Regions from separate parts of the Homo sapiens genome. Here region 2 is linked to region 1. Evidence: fine-mapped expression QTL. A gene starts in region 1. The other region holds a variant in brackets. All regions are shown on one strand. Distances are between the middles of the regions.

What was found. PIP is the estimated chance that this variant, and not a neighbour inherited with it, causes the effect.
Region 2: its variant is fine-mapped to the expression of ARAP1 in blood mononuclear cells (TOPMed, PIP above 0.99).

Annotation. Positions count from the first base shown.
Region 1 is chr11:72,747,844-72,756,351 of GRCh38, forward strand. ARAP1 (ArfGAP with RhoGAP domain, ankyrin repeat and PH domain 1) reads right to left here and starts at 4,565. Exons shown (of 35, transcript NM_001040118.3): 1 at 4,485-4,565. It overlaps STARD10 (StAR related lipid transfer domain containing 10), which reads right to left. Exons shown (of 7, transcript NM_006645.3): 6 at 7,858-7,910; 7 at 6,886-7,299. The coding sequence ends at 7,054. RefSeq lists enhancers at 1,427-1,586, 4,246-4,365, 4,976-5,205 and a silencer at 4,416-4,705.
Region 2 is chr11:72,717,389-72,725,388 of GRCh38, forward strand. All of the region lies in intron 3 of ARAP1 (ArfGAP with RhoGAP domain, ankyrin repeat and PH domain 1), which reads right to left. Among named protein-coding and RNA genes, the nearest start is that of ARAP1-AS2, 21 kb to the left of the region's middle. RefSeq lists enhancers at 1-236, 541-1,041, 2,126-2,195, 4,909-4,978 and a silencer at 1,816-1,895. The variant T/C (reference allele first, on the strand shown) is at 4,926.

The sequences.
Region 1 (8,508 bases):
CACCCCAGATCCACAGTTGGTCACCAGCAATGTCACCTGACCAGGTGGCCCTCTAGTCTCTGCCTATCACTGACTAGGCATTCCCAGGGTAGGACTGGGTTTAGATCTCCTCTGTCTGCAATGCCTCCCAGTGCTTGTGGTTTTCACTGTGAAGCAATGGAAATGTAGATTCCCAGCTATTCTATGTAATGGATGATCTTGGACAAATCACTTAACTTCTTGGGACCTCAGTTTCCTCATGTGGAAAATGGGAATGGTGCCTACCTCAGAAGACTATTTTGAGGATTAAATGAATTCAGTATATAAAGTGCTTAGCACACTGCCTGGCACATAGTCAGCTTCCAAGAAACAATAGCTACTGCTACTATTATTACTACTATTAAATAATGATTTGTTGACTGGGCCCAGTGGCTCACACCTGTAATCCCAGCACTTTGGGAGGCCAAGGCGGGCGGATCACGAGGTCAGGAGTTCAAGATCATCCTGGCCAACATGGTGAAACCCCGTCTCTACTAAAAATACAAAAATTAGCTGGGTATGGTGGCGCGTGCCTGTAATCCCAGCTACTCGGGAGGCTGAGGCAGGAGAATCGCTTGAACCCGGGAGGCGGAGGTTGCAGTGAGCCGAGATCATGCCACCACACTTGAGCCTGGGCTACAGAGCAAGACTCCATCTCAAAAAAAAAAAAAATGATTTGTTATTGAACTGGTCACTTAACTCCACGTCCCCTCCCAGCCACTCTTTGACTGTCCCAGTGGCCTAGGACAGATAACCTAACTATGGGACAGGCTCTTCCCCTCTGTACTACGGCCCAAGGATGAGAAAAAGAGACATTCCACAGGAAGACCATGTGGAACACAATCCATGCATTGCCCCCCACCATCTTTCACATCTGGGGTCATCTGCCTCCAGGTGGGACTGTCCTCCTCAGATCCCTGGTTGGAATGCACATACAGTCTGGGGGCCTGGCCAGGGGTAGGGGAAGGTGGAAAAAATGTTATCTCTGATCAGAGCTGGGGACACTGGGGTTGATTCAGCGGCAGCCTCTGAGTTTTGTGGGGCATGCACATTGGATGGGGATGTCTCCCCACCCACCAAATCCTCATGCTGTTCAGAACCCTGGAGTGGCCACCCTTAGCACAGAACTCCTTTCTAAAACATAACACCTCTCTGCACAGGGCTGTGGAGGGTGCTGACTCTAACCTGCCCAAGACCAGAGAAAGAAATGAGAAGAGCTGCCCGAGGGACTGGACTCTGCTCCAGAGCGGGGACTGGGTCAGCTTAGCTGGGGTCACACACTGTTCAAGGCTGCCTCGGTCACCACCCGGGGAAAGCACCTCACTCAGCCCTGGGAGGTGCTCAAAGAGTAAGATCAAAGTGAAGTCAGACAAAGGAGGCAATGAACACCTGGGTCCTGACCCTGTCTCTCTACCACCCTCCCAATGTATTCTTACACAAGTTACTTAGCCTCTCTGTGCCTCAGTTTCCTTATCTGTAGAATGTCACCTAATTTCTTGGGTTATTGGCAGGGTGGAATTGGTTAATATGGATAAAACTTTACAACAGTGCTATAGGCATGTTTGCTGACCTCATTCTCACTGATGTTATTACTCAGCTTTCTCTAAGGCTGTTACTTCCACTATGATATTGGAGGGTGATGGTCGTCTTATGCTCTTATGCAATTATGTAAATCATTAGATGACAAATGTGCAGTGTCCAGCACACAGCAGGTACTCAACAAAGAATGTTCCCTCTCCCAGCCGGGAGTGGTGGCTCACACCTGTAACCCCAGCAGTTTGGGAGGCTGAGGCGGGCAGATCACGAGGTCAGGAGATTGAGACCATCCTGGCTAACAAGGTGAAACCCCGTCTCTACTAAAAATACAAAAATTAGCCAGGTGTGGTGGCGGGCGCCTGTAGTCCCAGCTACTCAGGAGGCTGAGGCAGGAGAATGGCATGAACCCAGAAGGTGGAGCCAAGATTGTGCCACTGCACTCCAGCCTGGGCAACAGAGCAAGACTCCGTCTCAAAAAAAAAAAAAAAGTTCCCTCTCCCTCTCTCCCCTTTCCCCCAGAGAGGCCAGACTAGGAGACAGAACCTGTCCTGACCCCCACCAGGGGTCTCTGTGTGATCCTACCCTCATCTCTAGCTCTTGGCCTCAGTTTCCCCATCTGTGAAAGAAGCTTTTAGGCCAAATGGTCTCTAAGTGTCCATGGCCATATCTGCTCCAGCCTGTCCCCCACCCTTGTTCCCTCCTTCCTTCCCCATTTCCTACTGCATCCCCTCCTGATGTGACAGAACCCTTGGGAGCCTGAAGCGGGGTAGAGGGGACAGCTGGTGAACAAGAATCACCAGCCCTCAAGGAGCCCAGGGCCCGGTCCAGGCCCCCAAGGGTTAAGACCTAGAGTGAGGGGCGGGGGGCCAGGGTCAGCGCTGGACAGGCGGGCCTGGAGCCCAGGGCCTGCCTCCCCTCCCCCTACCCTGGGAACAGAGGCCACTTGTTTGGGCAGTGGCGGGTGGCTTTGAGCTCAGCCAAGGGAGAGTTGGGTGGGAAGGAGAGAGGGCTCCGGAAAATGGAAGGGACTCCCCACCTCCAGCCGATGCCCTAGGCCTGGTCCACCACTAGCCCCCGATACTCTCAGACACCCCCCCAACCCCTCTAAACTGACCCCTTCCCCTGGGTTCTCTCTTTCTTTCATTCAAACTCTCAATGCTGGAGACAGGACTTAGCAGATAGGCCTATTGCCCCAGCATCTTAGCAGATAGGCCTGACTATTGCCCCAGCACCGTCTCTCTTTGGGGCATGAGGCCAGGGCTGATCACTCCATCCTGCAGATGGGGAAATGGAGGCTCTGAGGAATTTGGGGACTTGTAGAGTCACATAGTGATTGGTGGCTGCACAAGGACTCGGGGCCCCAGGTCCCATGATCCCCATGGCTCTGCAGGCCCCATCCCCACAGAGCTCCAAGGAGACCCTTCCTAAGCTGTGCCATTACACAAGACTGAAGGCTGGGCAGGAAGGAGGGGCAACAGCAGCCCATCTCTGAAACCTGAAGTCCCAAAGGACCTGGGGATTTGAATGGGGAGGAAGCTTCTAGAGGGTTGGGAGGAGGATTAACAATCTGTACAAAAAGCTGAGGCTGGATGTGTGAAGCATGGCTGGAGCCCAGGTGGTGGGGGTATAAAGCTGGGGTTGAGTAGGAGGCTTGAATGCAAAACAAAACCTGGGGGCCATCAGGGCTCTGGTGGCCTCTGCCCCCTCCACCTCATCAGTCACCGGTACTCTGCCTGGGACACCCCCTTCCTAAACTACTCCAATATGCAAGTAGCCAATGGGGAGGCAAGGTCCCCAGGCCCAGTCCTGACAATCCCCAGCCAGGAATGGGACACAGGATGAGTTCTCTCTACACCTCTGCCAGCCACACCCACCTTTCTGCCATTCCTCAGACACACCATCCAAATTCCTGACTTTGCACAAGCTACGCCCTCGCCTTTGGAGGGTCCTTATCCTTGTAAATTGCCACTTAACTGCCAAGCCCATTCCAGTCATCCCCTCCCCTGGGGCCTGCACCTGTCCACACCTGTCTTCAAGGCTCTGCTGGGCTCCTTCTACCCTGTGATGATCTTGCTGGGCAGTCTCTCCCAGCCTGGCCTCTGGGGACTCTCCGCGAACAGGTATCATGAGTGCCTCAGTCTGGGACCCTGGGACCCACCAAAGAGTCAAATCCTTCCGAGTACCCCCAGGTATCTGGCCCTGAAGCACCCCCCTCCCACCTATCTGGGATCAGGGAAGGCTCCCCAGGATATGGGATGTGGGGGAAGGGACGGTATATAGCAGAAACCACAGCGTGATGGCTTCTGGCCAGATTCCCCCCCTCCCCGCCGGCCCTGCACCAAACACCCATCCCCTGCCCCCAGGCTGCACCCTAAGCCTGCTCTCTCCAGGCCCAACCACCCCACTCCCAGCGTGACCCCATTCCCTGAGCACATACTTTCTTTCACCAGCAACTGGGCCAGGTAGGGGCTCTGGGGAAGCCATGCCCCATTTACTGGTGGGGAATTGAGATGCAGAGACCGGAAGTAGCCTGCCCAAGGTCACTGGAGCCCCAGGCCCAGGGCATAGGGTCGTACAGATCTCCAGAAATGTAAAGGTCTCAGCGGCCAACGAGGTGGGAGCCTTCACTTCACAGATGGGAACCCCAAGGCGCCCGAGGGCGGCTGACTCCAGAGACCCTTCACGCCAAAGGGCTACGGGCTGGAAGCCCCGGGTCCCGCTGGTTCACCCCCCTTCCCTACCGTCTCTGGCCCGCTGGCTTATCCTCAAGAGGCGACCCCCCCATCACGCCCAAAAAGGTAAACAGACAAGATGACCCGGGGAAGCAGAAGCAGCGCGCGGCCTCGGCGTTCCTTTCTGCAGAATGGGGAAACTGCAGGCCAATGTGGCGAGGGGCCTGCAGACGGGGAGGCTCCGGCAGCCGCACTGACCTGTTTTGAGTAAAGACTCCACGCGGGGACCAGGCGTACCGGCGCCGCCACCGACTTACACCGCCACCGCCAAATTGCAGCAAGGGGCCGGGCGCGCCCACCCCCCCGGGCGCTTCCGCCCGCCCCACGTGACTCCCGGGGAGGGGAAGGTGGGGCTGGGGCAGGGCAGGGCAGGGCCCCGCCCCCTCATCGGCCCCTCCCCCCGCCTAGTCACGGTCCTGGAGTTGGTTGGCCTGGCCCGCCCGCCGGACCCGTCGGTCTGTGTCTCTCTCCTGCCCCTCTAGCTGCTTGCGGGTCTTCCGACTGTCTCCTGAGGCTCAGGTCTAACCCCCGCCACCTCGCCCGCTGAGTCCACCTCTCCCTGAGTCTCCCTGCTCTCGCCACCCCTCTTCTGGTGAGTCTGCCCTGACATACACCCCACCCACAAGAGGGCCACACCCCCAGGGGGATAGGAGGCAGTTGAAGGCCGTCAGTGGTGCCTGACCACCTCCTCTAGGAAATCCTTCCTCCACCACATTCTTCAAGGGTATCTCACTTCCCTCCCTGGGTGCCCACAGGCAGGGTTGTGGGGAAGCTACCCACCCAGCCACACCTCCCAAGGATCCCTCAGCGGAAGGCTGCAGCCTGAGGTTCCAGCACCCACACCTAGAGAACAGGAGATTCCCACCCATCCTCCCAGCACATACACAGATGAGGGTACCAAGCTTGGCAGACATTTCTGGGTCCTGTGTCCAGAACACCTCCGGGGCCAGCCACGCCAGAGACCTTCCCTGGGCTTCAATTTCTTTATATGCACAAAGGGTATATTTGGAAGAACAGATCTCACATTGCGGGGGATGAGGGTTTACCCCCTGAGAAGAGGAAAGTGTCATTAATTGGAGCACCTACTGCATGCTAGTCCCAGTGCTGGGCAATTTATTCCTTTTATCTCAATCCTTACATTCTGCTTGATGGCAAAAATTATCATCCCAGGTTATGGGTTAGGAAATAAGGCTCCAAGAAGTCTGAGGGCTTGCCCAAAGTTACAAAGCCAGTGTTGGGCAAAGCTGGGAAGCAACCCATTTTTATGAGTTCTAGAATCTCCTGCCTGCCCCCCACTGGCCATTCACCCTGTCCCTCTGGGAAAGAGTTGACTGAGTAGACCGTGTCTTCTGGTGGTAGGGCTAAGGCAAAGGAGCTTTCCGGGAGGGGAGAACAGGGCCAGACCTTGCGGAGAACTTCCGGGCCCCAAGTTCATATGGGGTCAAAAACACTGCAGAGGAGCAGAGCATAGGCCCCTCCTCTGGTCCTGGCAGCAGGGGTGTCCCTTGGGCAGCAGAGGGCACCTGGGGGCCACAGATCACAGGGGAGGCCCAGGCGTCCCTCTAGACTTCAGACCAGCGAGGTGCAGCACAGGGTGAGAAGGCTGGCATCTGACCACTGGCAAGGGGATAGGGGGTCTGGGGACCCTACCATTTCTGTTAACACAGTCCTGAGGTCTTCAAAATGACCTAGGGAGGGCGTGAATCACCAAGCCTGGTCCCCACCAACTGCACTGGAATCTGAGGCCCCTCACCTGCACCCTTGACCTCCCTCCAGGGTATGCTGCCCCAGCCTCAGCTCTGAGACCCACAGCCCTGTGGCTTGAGACCCACGGACCCCTCCACCTCCCTTCTGGGATGACAGGAGTGTCAGACCCCAGTCCATAGGTTGGACCCAAAGGGCCTTGGGCCGAAGGACACAGAGTAGAACCTCACCCTCTGACTCCTGACCCAGGGTCTCTGTCAAGGCCTGCTCCTTCCCTTAGAGCAGAGGTCCCCAACCCCTGGGCCACAGACTGGTACTGGTCCTGTCAGGAACCTGTTAGGAACCAGGCTGCACAGCAGGAAGTGAGCAGAGGCTGAGCTAGCATTACCGCCTCCTGTCAGATCTGCAGCAGCATTGGATTCTCATAGGAGGGAGAACCCTATTGTGAACTGCGCATGCGAGGGATCTAGGTTGTGCGCTCCTTATCAAAATCTAATGATAAATGTGATGCACTTGAATCATCCCAAAACCAATCCTTCCCCAATCCTGATCCATGGAAAATTTGTCTTGCACAAAACCAGTCCCTGGTGCCAAAAAGGTTGGGGACCGCTGCCTTAAAGCAGTGAAAAAGAAAGCAAATAGCCTGGCGTGAATGCCAAAATGACCGCTCAACAAGGACAGCTGGATAGATACGGGCAGAGAATGGAACAGAGTATGGACAGAAGGGGGGCAGTGATAAACCCCGTCTCCTCCCCGCTACACAATGGGAAATGAGGAGATGCTGGAAGGATCAACGGCCGGATGATCAACAACCTTAACAAAATTAAGGGCAGACGCAGGGGACCGCGGCAGCGGCCATGAGGCAGGTGGGAAGCAGGCACAGTGATGAGCCGGCTGAGGCTGTGGGATCGTTTATTGGGGCTCTGTCCAGCCAGGCTGCAGCACCCGCCTGGGCCTGGCCCGGTGCCACCAGGTGCCGGGTGGGGGAGGGGAGAAAGTGCAGGAGCGGCCGCCGCCCCAGGGCTCGCCCGGTCCTGTCTCCGTCCCTGAAGCGGTGCGGCGCTCAGGTGAGCGAGGTGTCGTCGTCGCTGCCCTCGCCGCCCGCGCCGCCCATCCGCTCCTCTCTGCTCTCGGCCACCGCGCTCTCGTCGATGTTCTCCAGTGAGTCCGCATGCTGCACCGACAGCTCCGACAGCGCCAGGCTCGGCAACGGGCTCTGCTCCGGGTGCAGCCACGGCTTGAAGTGAGGCAGGTGCTTCTGTTTCCACTCGGGGTACTTGAGGCACGCCTTGTACATCTTCTTCATGGCCTGTGGGCCCGCCGCCCCGCCGGGTCAGGGGGTGGCTAGGGGGCAGGTCTTCTCCACACCCCCCTCCAGCGGCTCAGCCCCCAGCATCCTGACTGGCTCCCTTTCAAAACTTCACTCCTCAGCCCTACTTGCCCTCCCTGGGCCCTAGGCTCCATTCTCCATTCTTTTTTTTTTTTTTTTTTTTTTGAGACGGAATCTCACTGTGTGGCCCAGGCTGGAGTGCAGTGGCATGATATCGGCTCACTGCAACCTCTGCCTTCCAGGTTCAAGTGATTCTCCTGCCTTAGCCTCCCGAGTAGCTGGGATTACAGGCACCCACCATCACACTCAGCTAATTTTTGTATTTTTAGTAGAGACAGGGTTTCACCATGTTGGCCAGGCTGGTCTTGAACTCCCGACCTCAGGTAATCCACCTGCCAAGGCCTCCCAAAGTGCTGGGATTACAGGCATGAGCCACCACGCCTGGCCCTCAGGCTCCAGGCTTGACTCCACCCACCTCATTCCATAGTCCTCTTTCCAGTCTTCAACACCCCTCCCCAAAATCCCAAGGCCACTCACCTTGGGAGCCAGGAACTGAGAAGATTTATTCACCACCCACTTGGGTAAGGAGCCTGTGAGGGCAGGGAAGGGAGGAAGCAGCCTCAGGGACCCAGCCCCTCCGCCCCTGACAAAAGCCCCACCCTCTGCCCAGAGCTTCCAGGGAGGCCACTGTCTTCCCCATGAGGAGGAGGTGTGTGAGGCAAGTCCTACAAGCCTTTACCCTCACTCCCTTCCACCTCAGACCGAAGTCCTCAGGCTTAGCTCTGTCCCCCACTTTCCCTCTGCCCAGCCTCAAAGATTACGTGGAAGAAAACCACAGGGTCCTAGGTAAGCACAGGCTATACATGGGTGGAAACTCTGACCCACCCTGCTGCACCTGCTGCCTCACTCAATCACACTGACATCCCTTCTCAACCTAACCTCCCTCCCAGGAATGCCCCTGACGCTCAGCCCCTCCCCTGCCTGTCCTTCCAAGTCCTCCCCTGACCACACAGGCCTCTGGCTGAGCACCCCAGCCTGGCCTGACCTGGAATCCACTGCCCAGCTCTCCACCCTATCTCATTCCCAAGTGTCCACTCCACCTCTGACACCCAACACAATGAGGTGCCGGGGGAGTGCTAGGCCTGGACCACTGTGCGCTCTGGGGCTTGAAGCATTTCCAGGCAAGGA
Region 2 (8,000 bases), 31 kb before region 1:
GAGCCTGGCTCCCAAAGCTCCCCCAGGTCTGAGGGCCAGAGCTGAGGGGAAGGTGGTAACCATAAATAAAAACTGCCCACCTGCTCGTCCGCATCCCTGGGGTCCGGCAGCATCAGCCCCCCTCCTCTGGCACCACAGTGCATCTCCCATCACTGTCCTGATCAACTGCGACGGGTCTGTGCATCTTGGGCAGCAGGCACGTTCCCTGAAGCAAGCTCCACACCCTCCTTCCTCATTGGGGTAACTCCAGCACTCAGCAGGGACTTACAAACACCTGGATTCATTAATTGTGTGTATGCGTGTCTACATGTGTGTGTTCCCAGCCATTTTCTGAGCACTTGACATGGATTCTTCATTCATCTACTCACAGCGCTCTGTAAGGCTTGTCATGATTCCACTTTACAGAGGAGAAAACCGAGGCACAGGGATGCTAGGTTATTTGTTCTTGGTGCCACAGCTGGGATGTGAACCCTGGCAGCCCAGTACCACAGCTGAGCAAATGAGGCCATGCCAGGGTCCCAGGGCTCCTCTGAGGCCAGCCTCCTCCCATGGGCAGCCAGGTCTCAGGACCCATCTGAGAGGGAACACATCACTGCCCTGCCCACGGCAAGAAGGGAGAGGGAAACAGATGCAAAGGGCTCCTCTCCCAGCAGAGCTTCCACAGGGAAGGGACCGTGTCTCACGAAGGTGGAACACAGGGGCCTCTCGGAAGCATCTGGGAAATTCTAGCCACCTTCTCCAGGAAGTCTCCTGGCTGCTCCCTGCCTGCCTGCTTACCACAGGGTATCAGGGCACTGCTGAGTCAGGACGGAGCCCAGGAAAGGAGAAGTGCTTTCAGGAAGGCACAACATGTGGGAAAACCCCAGGGAAAAGGCAGTGACCCCCTACCGAGAACAGGGCCCACAGAATGCCCCCGCCATAGCCCAAGTCCCAGCCTCTCACTGCTTGCACCCCTAAGAGTAGGCCCCGCTCCAATCCCGAGGTCCAGCTGAGGCCCGGCTTGGATGTCACCCACTGACTTGTCACCCACTGGACCACGTCCTCAATGGCGCCACCTCCAAGCCTTCACACAGTTTCATCCTCCTCTGCCCTCTCCCTCCCGTAGCCCACAGAAGCCCACCTCCACCTCAAAATGCAGCTCAGCCGGCCTCCTCCTCTAGGCAACCTCCAAGATTCTCCCACAGAGCTGCTCCCCACTCACCCCGCACTGCAGCTCCCTCTCCCCTCTACCCAAGGGGCATGTGAACCCACCTGCTTACCCACTATTCCCGAGAGACTAGGCACCCCGGGCAGCTAAGGGGTTGGTTCACCCCAGCCTGGGCCCTCAGCCTAAATCTATTTTATAGAATCAGAGAAAATACATGCAGCAGACCTCATGCCTGGGGGTTAGGTGACATGGTGGGTAGGCAAAATGCAGAATGGGTAAGAGGAGGGTGCAGCTTGTGCAGAAGTTGAGAGGCAGACCATGGACATCCCATCCTCATTGGGGTATCTCCAGCACTCAGCAGGGACTTACAAACACCTGGATTCATTAACTCTGTGTGTGCGTGTCTACGTGTATGTGTTCCCAGGCATTTTCTGAGCACTTGACATGGATTCTTCATTCATCTACTCACAGTGCTCTGTAAGGTAAGGCTCGTGATGATTCCACTTTACAGAGGAGGAAACCGAGGCACAGGGATGTTGGATTATTTGTTCTTGATGCCACAGCTGGTATTTGAACCCTGGCAGCCCAGCACCACAGCCGAGCAAACAAGGCCATGCCAGGGTCCCAGGGCTTCTCTGAGGCCAGTCTCCTCCCATGGGCCACCAGGTCTCAGGACTCATCTGAGAGGGAACACATCACTGCCCTGCCCAAGGTCACCCTCCTCTTACCCATGACCACATAATTCATTGTATAAACCACAAACACTTCTAAGAGTTAAAAGAGGCACTATTAATAACTATGTCAGGGCAGCAGGCATAAACAGGGCCTGTCCCACGTCAAATGAGATGTGTGGTTACTCAATTAACTAGAGACAGGGCTTGGAGCCAGGCAGACCTGGGCTTGAACTCAGCTCAACTCATTGGTTTGGGACCTTGAGCAGGTCCCTTCCTCTCCGAGCCTCAGTCTCCAGGCTTACTGATAATTCAGTAAAGGAGGGCCACTTGCACATGGCATCAACAGAACCTCTTCACCTTGAAGGAGACCCAGGCCCTACAGGCTGAGCCAGGAACCAGCTTCATAGCCTTAGCGGCCTCTAATGCCACCTCCTTCTCCTTCACCCCTACCCGTTCCTATCTTTCTGTCTATACCAATCTCTGGCCGAAAGAACCAGGTGTCACTGTGAGAGAAGGAAGGCCACAGAGTGGAGCAGTCTGCATATCTCAGGCTGACCCTGGACTCACCCCACTACTCACACTCCAGCCCTCCCTGACTGAGCTGCAGTCTATCAGTGCATACTTACAGGCCTTTAATACTCTGTTCCTTCCACCTGGAACACCCTCCCCTGCCTGGCCAACTCCTAGTCCTCCTATAAAAAGCCCAAATCATACATCCATCCTCCCCACTATCGCAGGCCTCCCCTCACATCTCAGGCTGATCTGGGGCCTCCCTGGGGCTCCCCACAATTCTGATCACTCAATATGGTCATATCAATGTGTGCTTCACTGAACTGCCTCAGAGGACTGAGGACCCAGACCTAACCCCATCCTAGAGTCACCACCTCCCCACAAGATGTCACACAGGTCTTGGAGGGACCTGGCCCAATCCCAGCCCCTGGACTCTCACCATCAGGGCTGCCGGCCCAGTGATCTGTGGACATCTGTGTCCCACCCTGATGTCTCCATTCCACAGGGGTAAACTGTCCCAGCTGCCCGCTTCCTCAATCATGCTCTGGACTCTCAGGGGCCCGGGCCTCAGTCCTATGCCTCCTGCTTCCTCTGTGGCTTCTTCCTTCCTCCTCCATCATGAGACCCAAAGGTCATCCCCTCCAGCACTCTCCTGGTTCTGCTCTGTTCACTTCTGCCTAGCCCCCAGCATAGACAGCCCTTCCTAGGGTCTCACTTGCTAGAATGGGATGTCCACGGTCTGCTTCTCTCAACTTCTGCACAAGCCGGGAGCCCCTAGGGCCAGTCCTCTCCATGCCGCCAGCAGTTCCCAGCACAGAAGGGGCTTTAGTAAGTGGGTACTGAATGACCACCACCCTACTCGCATCCTCATCACTGGAGAAGGTCTGCAGCTCCCCAAACTCTCCATACAGCAGTGCCCAGTTAACCTGGAGCCCATCCTCACAACCGCGCCTTCACCCAGCTCTCAGCACTTCTCCCTGGGACAACAGCTACCACTTGCTAAGCGCTCACTATGTGCCAAACATTCTGCTAGGGGCTTTTTTTCATATAATGACCTGGGATTATTAACTCCATTGTGCTCAGGGCATGCCTCCTCCTCCAGGAAGTCCATCAAACCGCTCCCTCCCTCCTCTAAGCCCACACAACCTGTTTGACCTTCCACCACCAGACCTACACTCAGCTTTCCCACAGGCCAGCCCTGCTGTCTGGGCAGGAGGTGGCAGAGGCCCCTTTCCCATGGCAGCTCTAAGCGCTTCCCAGGCCTGGCCCTGTGCTGGCTCCTGAGGGCAGCAGCAGGAGGAAGTTCATCCTCAGGGAGCTCACAGAAGTACTGAGCTCTTCCTGGGTCCAGCCCAGGCCTGGCCTGGCCTGGCAGAAAGAGCAGGTGCAGTTATCCGCTGGGCCCTATGGAAAAGATGAGCCAAGGGCACAGGGCAGGGCTGAAGAGTGCCGGGTGGGTGGACAGGACTTGGTTAGAGGTCTATGTCCCCAATAAGCCAAGCACAGGATTGTTGAATTCATTAGGGATCCACGGTAACTCAGGAAAGGGGAGACCAGCCCCCACACTCCATAAGCACCCACCACAGCACCAGTCCTGGGGAGGAGGGGTAAGCAGCACACCATCTCCCCATCACCCTGGTCTGGGGGTGAGAGGTTCAGAATCACAGCACCCTTGAACTTGACAGTGAAATAAGCCAAACTAAGCCTCCCCAACGAATCCCCAGAGGGGTGTAGGGAGGTGGGAGCAGAGAAGTAAGGTGATCAGCACCAGGCCCCCAAGGGGCAAGAACCCCAAAGAGGAGTATTCTGTGGGGCAGAGTCTGAGAAAGGCCCAGAAAACAGGCACCGTGGGCTCCTGGTGGACCCAGGAGAGGCGTATGGGGAGGTGGAGACCTAGAAAGCCCAGGGAAGAGGGAGGGATGAGACAAGGGGAGAAAAGGAAAAGGCAGGGGAAAAAGAGAAGAAGTGGGGAAAGTGAAATAAGACAAAACTCTAAGAGAAAAAAAGAGAAGGGGGAGGAGAGCAGCACAGAAAACCAGGCCAGAGGTGACAGACAGGGACTTCAGCCCTCCCAGGGCCTCCCTCCTACGTGCCCAACAGCAACAACAGCAACGGCGGCACCTCGCTTACCCTCAGACGCCTGCTGGGTCTTGGGGCTGAGGACTCCCACAGCTCCGGCCAGGCGGGCTGCGTATGCCCAAGAATGTCGTGTACCTGCCCGTGCAAGCCTGGGTCCCGCCTGGGCTGGTCTCGCAAACAGCCTGGCCCCTGGCCCCTGGGTGGGTCTGAGGCTGCGTTCTCTTGGAGGTTTTTGAGCCCAGGTATGGCTTTGCACCTGTGATTTATGTCTTTAAGTGTTTGTGAATCACTTCTCTACGTGCGTGTGTGTTTGTTTCTGTGTATAACTGTGGATCTGTCCAGGAGGAAAGGACAGAGAGAGAGAGAGAGAGAGAAAGACAGAGGGAGAGAGAGAGAGAGTGTGTGTGAGTGTGTGTGACTCTGTGTGTCTGTGTGTATGTGTGTGTGTATGTCTGCACCCAGCTCTGGTCTCCCGGAGGCTTCCTGCTTTGTGTCTCCCCCACCTCCTGCAGCCG[T/C]GGCCAACACACACACTTCCTGAAAACACTGAGAAAGCGAAAAGTCACCCAGAATCCCCCGGGGCAGACACTTCCTCCCCGCCCCCAGGCTGCACCCCCACCCAAGCTGGGAAGAGACAACCAACAGTGTCCACTGATCTTGCAGGCCCTCACAGGGTGGATGCCCAGGAAGTCCTGACTGACAAGCCCTGGCGGTGGCCTCTCCACCACTCCACCCGCATAAGGAGACAGAGAGGCTAGGAAAGAGGCTCTCTGAAGGGCGCAAGTTCTGCCCTGGCAACAAGTGATCAGCCTCCAGGAAGACCAGGGATTGGCTGGACTGCAGGGCAGTCAAGGGCACAGGAGGGAAGCCTTGGCAGTGTGGCTCCAGCTGGGCAGCTGCCTTCTGGGCACACACTCCTTCTTCCTGAGGTGCCTCCAGGCATCCAGGTATCAGAGGGGGACACCAAAGGCCAGAGCAAGCTGGGAGGGGATCTGCGGCATGACCCTGGAACCTCACATCAGAAACGACCCCTCTGCCACCCTCAGGGAAGCCAGTTCACAGGGCTCATGTCTGCGGCATTTAAGAGCTGAGTAGACCTGACCTGAAGCCAGGAGGCAGGGTCTGGGCACCGGCTTCCCTTCTGCAGGGCTGGGTGACTCTGGGCAAGTTTCTCAGCATCTCTGGGCTCCTCAGCAAGCACCCCACCACGAGTTTAAATTAATGGTAGGGTGCCGAGTGCAGTGGCTCACACCTGTAATCCCAGTGCTTTGGGAGGTCGAGGCAGGAGCATTGCTTGAGCCCAGGAGTTCAAGACCAGCATGGGCAACAAAGGAATACCTCGTCTTTACAAAAGATTTAAAAATTAGCCAGGTGTGGTAGCACACACTTGTAGTCCCAGCTACTTGGGAGGCTGAGGTGGGAGGATTGCTTGAGCCCAGGAGTTCGAGGCTACAGTGAGCTATCATGGCACCACTGCACTCCAGCCTGGGCAACAGAGAGAGACTTAGTCTCTATTAATAATAATGATGATAATAATAATAATAATAGCAGGGGGTGCAGACTCTGGGGGTGATGTAGAGTCCCCCTAGGCCAGGCAGAATCATGAGCCTGGTTCTGAGAGTCCTGGGCCATGCCAAGGCCAGGAGGAGGGAACTCCATCCTTGCTTGTTTTCTGATTTGCCTAAACCTTGGTCTGTGGCCTACAATCCTATCACAGCCTCGTTCTTCCCACCTGTCTCCTCTGAAGACCTCTCCCTTCCTAAAATATCTGGGATGACGTAGGTTGGGTAGTAGGATGGGGGACAGGGAGCTGGGGCGGTGAGCTCAGGGCCCTATGGCCCAGCTGTGCTGAGGGCACTCACTGGGTGCTGAGTCACATGCGTGTTTACCCACATGCACCCCAAGCTCAGCACGTGCCAGTACACAAGCTCACGTTGGCAATCATTTACTCACCCACACGATATACTTCCCAAGGGCCTATTAGGCATCCAGCACTGTTCTAGATGTTGGGGATTCTGCAGCAAACAAAATCGACTAGGATCCTGGCCCCAGTGGAGCTGCCATCCTAATGGGCTCTCCCTCTTGGCAGCACATGTACACACACGTGCACACACTGGCTCAAGCCTGACAGTGCACAAATAACACAAATGTCATGTTCTGCTCAAACAGCACGTGCACACTCGCGGATGTACTCACACACTGTTGGGGTCTCCACCACAGCAGTAATTGAGCACAAAGGTCCTGATAAACTCACATACACACCACTCCATGTCACCACTGAAACTGCACAAATCCCTACATGCTTCTACATCTTAGTAGCACACACTCTCAGAACCTGTCTGAATGTGTAAATGCACAGACATTCTACTACCCTGACAGCTTGTACTACCACCCACACCCATCTGTATGGGTGCACACACAGACTGGCCCAGACATGCCTCACACTGACTCGAGACACTGAGAGTACACACATGCACACGCATCCACCCCCAAGCTCCACTGGGGAGCCTGGAGATGACCGGCCTCAGCCACCACATGACCTTGTGTGAAAGGCCCTAAGGTTGAGAGAGTGAGTTCCCCATCATGAGGGGTTGCAAGCAGGGGTAGGAAGGCCATGTCATGAGACACTGTGATGGGACTCCCACAAGGCGGGGGTGGGCAGGAGCAGTGTTCCTCTCTACATGCCATGGAGCCTGGGGATCACAGGAAGGGACTGAGAGCGGACAAGGTGGCCAGTCAGGGTCCATGTTGGCCCCCACCCTGATCACTACAGCACTCAGTCTTGGCCTGGTATACACACATGAGGCTCCATCTGCTGTGAGTTTTTCCTACCACAGGGCTTTGAAGACCATACACTCTCTGAGTTGAGTGTGTACAAAGCTGAAGACTGCATATGCCCATGACTCCAACTGCCAAAGACCCCAGGACACAGGAAGCCAGGCTTGGTAGCTTACCCACTACCATACTCTGCCGTAAGGAATAGTCCCAAATTGCAGGAAATACTTTTCTTCCAATTCTCTTAGCACAGAACAGATTTTGGGTACTCAAACTACAAGGGGCTAGACCTTTTCCCGACCATGGCGCCTGGCCTCCTCCTCATGTTGCCTAAATGGCTATGTTCAGACAGGCTCTGAGAGTAGGCATTGGTACCCTGGAGCCCTGGGGTGTGGACAGGACTTCCTCCTACCCAGCAAGCCTCCTGAACTCAGATGTCAGTGCCAGGAGGGCCCAGAAGTCTATGGAGGACCACAGAGGGCACCTGATGGGGAAACAGGCCCAGAGAAGCAGGTCCTCATCAGAGTCACAAAGCTAGCTGGGCCCGACCCAGGCATCCTGCCTCCCAAGCAGGAACCCAGGCCTCCACTGCCCGTCCGGGAGTCACAGGAAGGGCCTGAGAGGGGACCTGGCCAGGGCCCTGCTTCTTCCCTTTGTTCACCCACTTCCAACCCCAGAGACAGACAGACAGACTTTCTCTTCTCTATCCTCTTCTCTCTTCTAACCTCTCTCTCTCTCTCTCTCTCTCTTTTTCTCTCTCTCTCTCCCCCCCACAAGCTGATGGGGTTGAAATAGAAAACGCTCCTGCATGCAGAAGA